Linked DNA regions of Homo sapiens: all the other regions are reported to be linked to region 1. The links are microRNA targets in miRTarBase. Many come from high-throughput screens and were not tested one by one. Region 1 holds a microRNA gene; each other region holds the end of a gene's coding sequence.

Region 1 (3,251 bases):
AGCACAAAAGAGTGAGTGAACAGTGGGACTGATTTTTATTCTAAGAAGCTTCTCTCTTTCTGGGAACCAAATCATCTGCTGAGAGCAGAGGATGTACAGGCATAGGATAGGGGCTGAAGAGTGCGTGGGAGACCCTGGGGAGAACGAGGAGAGGAAGTACCAGACTACTAGACATGGCAGGACTACTCAGCAGTGTAGAGGAAGCCCTGAAGGGAGAGGAGGACGGCCAAGGGGCTTTGAGGCTCACGATGTGTGAGTCATTTTCTCTAGTGACGTGCTGCATGGAGAGAGAGCCAGGAAGATGGCCCAGGGCAGATTGTGTGGTTGGCTGGGCACGTAGACTCATGCAAACCAGGTGTGTCCTCGGGATAAATGCATTTTCCTCTTTTCTAGCTCTTCAGTGGTTCATGTGCCTGGAGTGAATGATATTCAGTCCTCTTCTTCCACGGGCCAGAACATGTCCCAAATCTCCCGGCAGCTAAACCAGAGTCAGGTGGCATGGACAGGGAGTCGTCCGCCCTTTCCGGGACAGGTATGGGCATCTGTGAGGGCATCTCCCCTGGGTGACCAGAGAGGCAGAGCACTCTGGGAAGTGTTTTCTTTGGATTGCGGTTCTGAGGATGGGTCGGCTCCTAGCTGGAACCAACCACCCTAACAGCAGCTGGCTACTCAGGAGCACCATCCACCCTCAGGGCTCTCGGAGAGCCAGGTGCCCAGCCTGCAACTTCAGCAGCCTTTTCTCCTTACAGCCATGCCCTGAGGCAGCTGGCAGGGAAAGGTTGGGCAGGTTGAGACACCTCATCAAGAATGAGCCCCTCACTACTCTGGACCTCTGGCTGCCCCTGCGCCAGGAGGGCATGAAACCACCAACCCTTGTGACATCCCCAGACCCTCATAGTCACTGTGAGGGTGGGTGTTGATTGGGCTGAGGGAGTTCTAGGTGTTCATAATGCCAAGGCCTTGGTAACCAGACTCCAGAGGGCCCGGATCCTCGTAGCCCTGGGGAGTAACTTCAACCAGACGTGCCCCAAAGATCCTGCAGTTCCTGGGCCCTCACACACCGGGCTGATCCCAGGCCTGTGCCTAGCCAGACAAGAGGGTCATGGGGAGTCACTGTCAACCCAGAGCAGGCACTGCCCCTGCGACCAGCCTGGGGCATCGGTTGGGGTGCAGGGGTCTGCTGGTGATGCTTTCCATCTCTTTGCTTTGTCCTGATTGTAGCAAATCCCATCTCAGTCCAGCAAGACTCAGTCATCTCCCTTTGGGATTGGAACGAGCCACACCTACCCGGCAGACCCCTCTTCCTACAGCCCCCTCTCCAGCCCAGCTACCTCCTCGCCAAGTGGGAATGCCTACTCCAGTCTTGCCAACAGGACTCCAGGGTTCGGTAGGTGGGGAATGAGGGAGTGAGATTCTGGGAAAGCCAGCACAAATGCTTTCTGAACAGCCTGAATTCAGGAGGCTGAGCTCCAAGCTCCCAGCTACCAAAACAAGGTCTGGAGGTTTCCAAGCACCTCCTCTCTCTCTGGCTATGAGGAGGCCTATGGTGTTCCTAAGAGACTGGATGCTTAGGCCTTGGCTTTGTGATTTGACTTTATCATTTTCAAGGCATTGGGATGATGTTGCTGTGCTGTGAGGTGATCTGAATACCATTTTAACCCATTATGGCCCTGGCAAGGATTTTCAGGTCCCCCAAGTCAAAAACCTTATAGTCTTGTTTCAAGAAACTAGAGAATAGCTATAGAGACAATCAATTGCATAAATAACACTGCAAAGTTTTCTGTCTCTTTTAAATATTAAAAACACCTATCTTACTTTGTTAACAAAACCTCAGGCCATAGAGGGTTAAGGAACCGCTGTGTCCTGTGCATTTCTCAGGATCCTGGGCCTTGCCCACTCTCCGTGTGTGTAAGGAACCTCCTCAGCATGTCTCCCAGGGCTAGGGTTCCACTCCACGTCAGGACAAGCTCATAAGAGACCCGTGGTCCTGGTAAGAAGTCCAAGCTGGTGCCTGCTTTCTCACAGTGAGGTCACTGGGTGACACCCAGCAGTGCGGCTCATAGAGCTTTTCTCTACAGAATTGATTCCTCAGATGAGCGTGAATCTGAGCCCAAACATCTGAATTTCCACGTGGCAAGTTAAAAGCTTCCATTAGAACTGCTTGTCTGTCAGCCTTATGAACAATTCTGTGCAGGCAGGGCGCGGTGACTCACATCTGTAATCCCAGCACTTTGAAAGGTCAAGGTGGCAGATCACCGGAGCCCAGGAGTTCAAGACTAGCCTGGGCAACATTGCAAAACCCTGTCTCTACAAAAAAAAAAAAAAAAAATTAGCCAGGTGTTGTGGTGCATGCCTGTAATTCCAGCTACTCAGGAGGCTAAGGTGGGAGGATCATTTGATCCCAGGAGGTTGAGGCTGCAGTGAGCCATGATCACACCACTGCACTCCAGCCTGGGTGACACAGTGAGACCCTGTCTGAAAAAACAAAAGAAAGAAAAATGCTGTGCAGAGCCCCTAGCACACAATGGGGAGTTGTCATCTGCTGCCCAGCCCTCCCCACCTCCTCCACTAACAGCAGCACGTCCGTCCCACTCAGCCCGAGGTCTTGGGGCACAGCATTTCCTGAGGCCATGCTTGTCCCTCCAGCCTTAGTCCCATTTACTTGCAGTGTGTCTCCTCTTCGTCTGTTAAGTATTCTCGCCACGTGGTTCACTGGAACCCAGTTTAGAAGCACAGCACCCTGTCTGAGGAAGGAGAAACCCCATAGCAGTTGCTCTCAAGTCAGCCAGGCACTCAGCACGGTTACCACCTTGAGCCCAGAATCCTGTTTCTCAGGATAGCATCCACCTTCCTGCAGTCACACGTGAGATCCTTCTCCACATCTGGTTCCCCACCCGGGTGTGGAGAGACCCCTTCACCTCCTCCTGAAGGTGGGCCTCATAGACTCAAGGCCTCCTGGGTACCTAGTCCTTCCCGGAAGCCCAGGGACCATCTGGCACCGATCTACTCAAAAAAACCTTCAGTGCCAGGCCCCGAATCAGCCCTGGAAGACAGGAGACCTGGTCCCCACCCAGAGAAGGACACAGTCCAGAGACTGGGTCAGGGGAGACAGACAGAGGTAAAGGGAGGCAGGCAGGACAGTCTGCAGGTGCGGCAGCCATGGTCTGCGTGGGGGCCCTTGTGGCTGCAGGCCAGGACAGTCGTTATGTCTGATGGGGTCAAGAGAGGCTTCGGAGCAGAGCTAACACGCA
Region 2 (3,251 bases), not on the chromosome of region 1:
GATAACTTTATAAGAAATCTGGGTCAAATAAAATTCTTTGAAGAAAACATCCAAATGTCATTGACTTATCAAATACTATCTTGGCATATAACCTATGAAGGCAAAACTAAACAAACAAACAAAAAGCTCACACCAAACAAAACCATCAACTTATTTTGTATTCTATAACATACAAGACTGTAAAGATGTGACAGTGTACATTATATGACAATGCACATTAGCCAGCAAGTCTTTTATAGGTGGTTTCAGCAGCAACGATAAATAATGCAGAATTCAGCTCCAGCACTTTATTTCAAAAGAAATTTCCTGCCTCCCTCCAAGATGCAGGGTGAGGAGGTAGCTTGGGGTTGCTATTGGAGAAGTATTCAGTTTGCTACTTTGTGTCACCCCTTGCCATTCTTTTATCCCCAGTTAATTATTATCTGCATATAATATAAATCTGCTAGACCATAAATTAACAGCTTTCAGGACAGATGCCTTGAAAGTTCTTAGGGAGGTTAAACAAATATTGTAGCCTAAAACCTCCTCTATAACAAACATGCACACAATGGAAGTGATGTCGTAAGTGAGTGATGGGGCAGGAAGGACCTAGGGCTCTGTCTCGACTATAAAATCACCTTGCCCCAAACAAATTTAAATTATAACTTAGGAGGTTCATGGACTTTCATCCATTCTGGAAACAAAGAGAAAAACCAAATCAAATACCAGAATCTGTTTTCTCACTGGGCAAATAGCAACAGGATCCACAGTTTTACCACAATTGTTTCCCTGTCTCCATGTGGTATCTACATAATTCTTTTCCCAAAGGAGGAAATCAAATAACAGGCCAATCTGAGTAATTAAACTCCCCTCCCAACACTACCCAACCTCTGTGAATAAAAGCTTTCCAAACTTTGTGATCACATTTGAAATTGGTTCACTTATTATTGAGAGAAAACCACAAAAAGTCTCAATTTCATCACATCCTCAAACCAATCTTTTAATTTTTAAATGCAGAAGAAGAAACAAAACGAAACAAAAAGATCATTCTGCAAAGAGACCTCTCAACTCTTCATCAGCCAGTGGCATAACTCAGAAACTGATTTAACTAATTTATTATTTGAGAAAAGGGGATTGAAAAACAATTGGGGGGTATAATCTTCTGATTCACAATTCCCAGCCACATTCTTTTCTATTTATTCTCTCTCTCTCTTTTTTTTTTTTTTTTTTTTTTTTTAAGAGCCGGAGTCTTGCTCTGTCACCAGGCTGGAGTGCAGTGGTGTGATCTCAGCTCACTGCAACTTCCGTCTCCTGGGTTCAAGAATTTTCCTGCCTCAGCCTCCCAAGTACATGGGACTACAGGCACGCCCCACCATGCCCAGCTCATTTTTGTATTTTTAGTAGAGACAGGGTTTCACCATGTTGGCCAGGATGATCTTGATCTCTTGACCTCATGATCCGCCCGTCTTGGCCTCCCAAAGTGCTGGGATCACAGGCGTGAGCCACCACACCTGGCCCTCTATTTATTCTCTTTAAAGAGAGAGAAAACTATGAGAGGCCAAAATTATTTAATTAAATCTTTACCTTAGCACAAGGGAAAAAAATGGAATTTGCCTAATATAGGTGATGAAGCATACACAATGAATAGAAACAATCACATTTTAGTAAAAGGCAAAAATTTGAGACTTATAAGCTATATGGTAGCTTATTTTTGGGTGGGGAAGAAATGAGAAAAGAATATAACATCTCTTACTGGCATGACACATTTTGATAAAAAATCTTATTGTCCTTTCCTACTAGAATGATCCACTGTAAGGCAAAAATAATATACAAGCAAAGTTTTTTTTTGGAGACAGAGTCTCACTCTGTCACCCAGGCTGGAGTGCAGTGGTACGATCTTGGCTCACTGCAACCTCTCCCTCCCGGGTTCAAGTGATTCTCGTGCCTCAGCCTCTTGAGTAGCTGGGATTACAGGCGCGTGCCACTGCGTCCGGCTAATTTTTGTATTTTTAGTAGAGATGGGGTTTCACCATGTTGGCCAGGCTGATCTCAAACTCCTGACCTCATGTGGTCCACCCACCTTGGCCTCCCAAAGTGCTGGGATTACAGGCGTGAGCCACCGCGCTCAGCCTACAAGCAATTTTTTAAAAACTGACACCTATTACTGATAAAATTCTCTGTTTAAAATCCTATTTACTATTTTAAAGATAAGTATTAGTTTTTTTTTAAATACAATAATTCTGTTATTGATAAAATTTAAGGCATTTTCATTGCCTTTTGCAGATTTACTCATAACTACCTAACAAGGAAAGAAGGTATAATTATTTCAGATTGGATTATTTATTCTAAAATTAAATTCTTCACTAATTTATTCTAAGATGAATTTAATAGTCCATCAGGAAATTGGTTTTTATAAAGCTTATTTTATGGGCATAAAATACAGGAAAAAGTAATAATAAATGCCAAACCGTCTCTTTACTTTATGAAGCCAAATATTTCCTCAGACTTGGTTTTTAAAGCTGGAATTTATTCCTTCAGGGCCACTATTATTTTTCAAAACTCCATATAAATATTGAATCTAAAAATTAATTAGTAATTTTAATTTTCCTTTTTCTCTTCAAATTCCTTCTCTTCTCCTGAACTGTTGACTTTCAAAAATTCACAGAATGAGCATGTTTCTTACACAGGGGCTTGTCCTTCTTGGAGAAAAAGGTCTGACCTTCCAAACTTTCACAACACACCTGAAAAAGAAGCAGCATTTAAGAGATATTATTTAAGAGGATATTAAGAGGATTTTACCCAGTATGCTGGAGAAGGAGAGAGTGATTTTTCCCCCCAATGGATAATATGACAAAACACTTTAGTTGGTTAAGTTAGACTCCCTAATATTTGACGATTACTATAACATTAGATATAATCTTTCAAAAGCAATGAAAAATTGCTTTTTCCTAGAATGTATTCTAATTTATAGAAAGCACTGATCATCACTTTTCTTTATCCAGAGGGAAGATTTATCCCTAACTTGAAAATCAATATAGAAAGGGGGCTCGTTAAATATATTTTATCTCCCCAAATTATAAACAACGTCCTAATTTTGCTTTGTGTTGTAGAGACTCATTTGCTTTACCAAACCTTCCCAAGCCCAACATTAGCTTGCTGCCAGTTACACAGGCACAGAATACCTGAGACCCTTTTTTTTTAAGGGCTGCCTTGTGTTCAAGCTGAGACCTCTTTTGTTTGTTTCTTATAACCAGGTCAGTATCTGGCTGCTG
Region 3 (3,251 bases), not on the chromosome of region 1:
GCCCCCCACCTGCCATCCTGATATCCCCGCGTGCCCGCAGCGCGCGCTATACCAGTCCTCGCATGTGGACGAAAATGACGTGCAGACGGTGTCGCACAAGTGCCTGGTGGTGGGCCTGGAGCAGTATGAGCAGATGCTGAAGACCAAGAAGTACCAGGACAGCGAGGGCCTGTACTACCTCGCGGGCACCTACGAGCCCACCACGGGCATGATCTTCTCCACGGACGGCGTGCCCGTGCTCTGCTGAGCCCGCCGGGCCCTGCGGGCCACCTGTGCCCCGAGGGCGGCCAGGGACCCATCTCCATCACTGCCATGGCGCGGAGACCACGTGCGTTGTGTGCATGCGAGCGCTCCTGCAGGCGTGTGCATGGGGCCAGGTGTGCACGTGGATGCCCGGGTGAGTGTGTGTGCATGCACGTGTGTGCACGCATGTGCACATGCCTCCAGCCCCACCTTCCAACCCCTCAGTGCCCCCAGGACAGGGGCCCCTCTTAGCTATCAGGGTATGGCCGGACCGGCCCTTCCTGCCCAGCACGTTGCAAGCACTTGGCCAGGCCGGCCCTCCAGGCTGCTGCTGCGTGGGGGCCCGGGTGCCCCCAGGTCCATGCAGACTGGGGATTCGGTGGGGAGGGGCGCTTCTAAGGAACCAAACTGACGCTCACTCTGGGCTTCCCAAGCACCCTTAGCATGGAGCCCACCCCAAGGCCTCCCACCGTGCATGGGACAGGGCAGCCCGATGCCAGCTGGCCTACCTGACTGTGCCAGGGGCCCTGCCCCCACCCTCTCAGGATGGCCTAGACTTGGGGAACAGAGCCGGGTGGGGTTGCAGCCCGGAGTGTCTGTCAAAGGCACCAGGTGGAGAGGGCCCGGCACAGGCCCACCCTGGTCCAAACCCTCACACTACAGAAAACCCCAATGGTGCTGAAACTGTCGCCCGGCCACGCCTGGCCCCTCCCCACCCAGGAGGGAGGTGGCACTTCTTAACCTGTACAGTTTTATTGTACCAAGAGACTCGCCCCGCCCCTGTATCATAAGCCTTTAAATGGAGTCAACTTTTTAATTATATATATAAAGATAAATATATATAAATATATATATAAACTTTTTAAAACTGTGAAAAATAGCTATGAAATTATAAAAAAAAACATTCTGACGTGCAGAATATTATTTTTTATTTCCTGTTAGATTATAGTGTCTAGCACCGGCTTCACCGGCCTCCCAGTCCCCAGCACACCCCCCGCCCACCCCACCAAGTGTACTGTACTCACCCCCCAGGATAGAGAAGTGTTTGTTAGGGAGAGAAGAGGGAGAGGCAGGAGCCGGCCCAAGCCCAGGGTCCCTGCTTGGGCCCCAGAAAGCACTTAACCAGGCCCCAAGCCTTCAAGGGAAACCAAGGCCTCAACCAGACAATCTTGAGGGAAGGAAAAGCCAGACTTTGGGTTTGTTTTTTGGGGGAATTATTGGTTTTTTTTTTTATGTTTCTTTTGGAATTTTGTTTGTTGGCAAATTCTGTGTGATCTTTTTTCATAAAAAAAAAGAAAAGATTTAATTGGAAAAATAAAATTGTCTGGAGTGGTTTATTTCAGGGGCTGGAGTAGGGGTGGTGTCTGGGGGCATTCTGCCATATCAGGGCACCAAGAAGCAGGATTCGACTGGAAGAAGTTGGGTGCCACGCGTGCAGGGGCGGTGACCCCATGCAGCCATCTAAATGAGCTCATCGGCTGGGCACAGTGGCTCACGCCTGTAATGCCAGCACTTTGGGAGGCCAAGGCAGGCGGATCACTTGAAGTCAGGAGTTCGAGACCAGCCTGGCCAATATGGTGAAACCCCATCTCTACTAAAAATACAAAAAAAAATTAGCCAGGTGTGGTAGAGCGTGCCTGTAATCCCAGCACTTTAGGAGGCCGAGGCGGGAGGATCACTTCAGGCCAGGAGTTTCAGACCAGCCTGAGCAATGTGGTGAAACCCCGTCTCTACTAAAAATACAAAAATTAGCCGGGTGTGGTGGCCCACACCTGTAATCCCAGCTACTCGGGAGGCTGAGGTGGGAAAATCACAGGGACCCGGCGGGTGGAGGTTGCAGTGAGTTGAGATCGCACCACTGCACTCTGGCCTGGGGGTGACAGAGATTGTCTCAAAAAAAAAAAAAAAAAAAAAAAAAGAAATTGAACAAATTTACATGAGAAAAAATTAAAAGTTAAGTTGGATGGGCACGGTGGCTCACGCCTGTAATCCCAGCACTTTGGGAGGCCAAGGGAGGCGGATCACTTGAGGTCAGGAGTTCAAGACCAGCCTGGCCAATATGGTGAAACCCCATCTCTACTAAAAATACAAAAAAATTAGCCGGGTGTGGTGGAGCGTGCCTGTAATCCCAGCTACTTGGGAGGCTGAGGCAGGAGAATCGCTTGAACCCACGGCAAAGGTTACAGTGAGCTGAGATCGTGCCACTGCCCTCCAGCTGGGGTGACATAACGAGATTCCATCTCAAAAAACCAGTGCCAGGCATGGTGGCTCATGCCTGTAATCCCAGCACTTTGGGAGGCTGAGGCAGGTGGATCACCTGAGGTCGGGAGTTCAAGACCAGCCTGACCAACATGGAGAAACCTCGTCTCTACTAAAAGCACAAAATTAGCCGGGCATGGTGGCACATGCCTGTAATCCCAGCTACTCGGGAGGCTGAGGCAGGAGAATCGCTTGAACCCGGCAGGCAGAGGTTGCAGTGAGCTGAAATCGAGCCATTGCACTCCAGCCTGGGCAACAAAAGCGAAACTCCTCCAAAAAAAAAAAAAAAAAAAGCAAAGCTGCACATTTCCAGCCATGCCTACCACAAAATGATACTAGAAGAAAATGATACTAATGCTAAGAGTGGCCCCAAGCCCTCACCTAGATGGGGGTGGACGGCATCTCTGCACTGGGGCCTAGGGAAGCTATAGGTGGGGGTCTGGCTGCCCAGTGACTGACCTGGTTAGTGTGGGTGGCCTGCAGAGGACATTCGGGGCTTTGCAAAGAGGGTAACCCATGGAGGGCAGCCAGCCGGCCTCGGGCAAGGGAAGGGCCCGGCATGGGCTCTGGGAAACACTCTGGTGTCACCTGGCGCAGTCTTGGCCCAAGTGGCCGCCCACCTGGGCCCCAGGGAGGATGCCTGCCAGAGCATAGGTGGCCCTCGTGCCCTCCTTTACGGGACCCACATCAAAACCTGGACCAGCCCCATTCCTTGGGGAAGCTAAGGACAGAACAGGCCAGGCGCAGTG

Evidence for each region. The annotated mature microRNA hsa-miR-5572 reads GUUGGGGUGCAGGGGUCUGCU and lies in region 1 at 1,162-1,182, shown strand. An mRNA with a match to its seed (bases 2 to 7 or 8) in the 3' UTR can be bound and repressed. Matches are read on the target gene's strand: a 7mer-m8 pairs with bases 2 to 8, a 7mer-A1 pairs with bases 2 to 7 and ends in A, and an 8mer does both.
Region 2: the mRNA of PDLIM5 is a reported target of hsa-miR-5572. Seed matches in the 3' UTR shown: 7mer-m8 at 342-348.
Region 3: the mRNA of TNRC18 is a reported target of hsa-miR-5572. Seed matches in the 3' UTR shown: 7mer-m8 at 697-703 and 7mer-m8 at 910-916.

The regions. Positions count from the first base shown.
Region 1 is chr15:80,580,018-80,583,268 of GRCh38, forward strand. MIR5572 (microRNA 5572) reads left to right here and starts at 1,086; the gene lies at 1,086-1,222. It overlaps ARNT2 (aryl hydrocarbon receptor nuclear translocator 2), which reads left to right. Exons shown (of 19, transcript NM_014862.4): 16 at 394-532; 17 at 1,222-1,387. It overlaps ARNT2-AS1 (ARNT2 antisense RNA 1), which reads right to left. Exons shown (of 2, transcript XR_007064732.1): 2 at 13-2,744.
Region 2 is chr4:94,663,447-94,666,697 of GRCh38, reverse strand. It overlaps PDLIM5 (PDZ and LIM domain 5), which reads right to left. Exons shown (of 13, transcript NM_006457.5): 13 at 1-2,720. The coding sequence ends at 2,631. Among named protein-coding and RNA genes, the nearest start is that of BMPR1B-DT, 92 kb to the left of the region's middle.
Region 3 is chr7:5,305,102-5,308,352 of GRCh38, reverse strand. TNRC18 (trinucleotide repeat containing 18) reads left to right here. Exons shown (of 30, transcript NM_001080495.3): 30 at 41-1,542. The coding sequence ends at 247. It overlaps SLC29A4 (solute carrier family 29 member 4), which reads right to left. Exons shown (of 11, transcript NM_153247.4): 11 at 1,441-3,251. Among named protein-coding and RNA genes, the nearest start is that of SLC29A4, 24 kb to the right of the region's middle.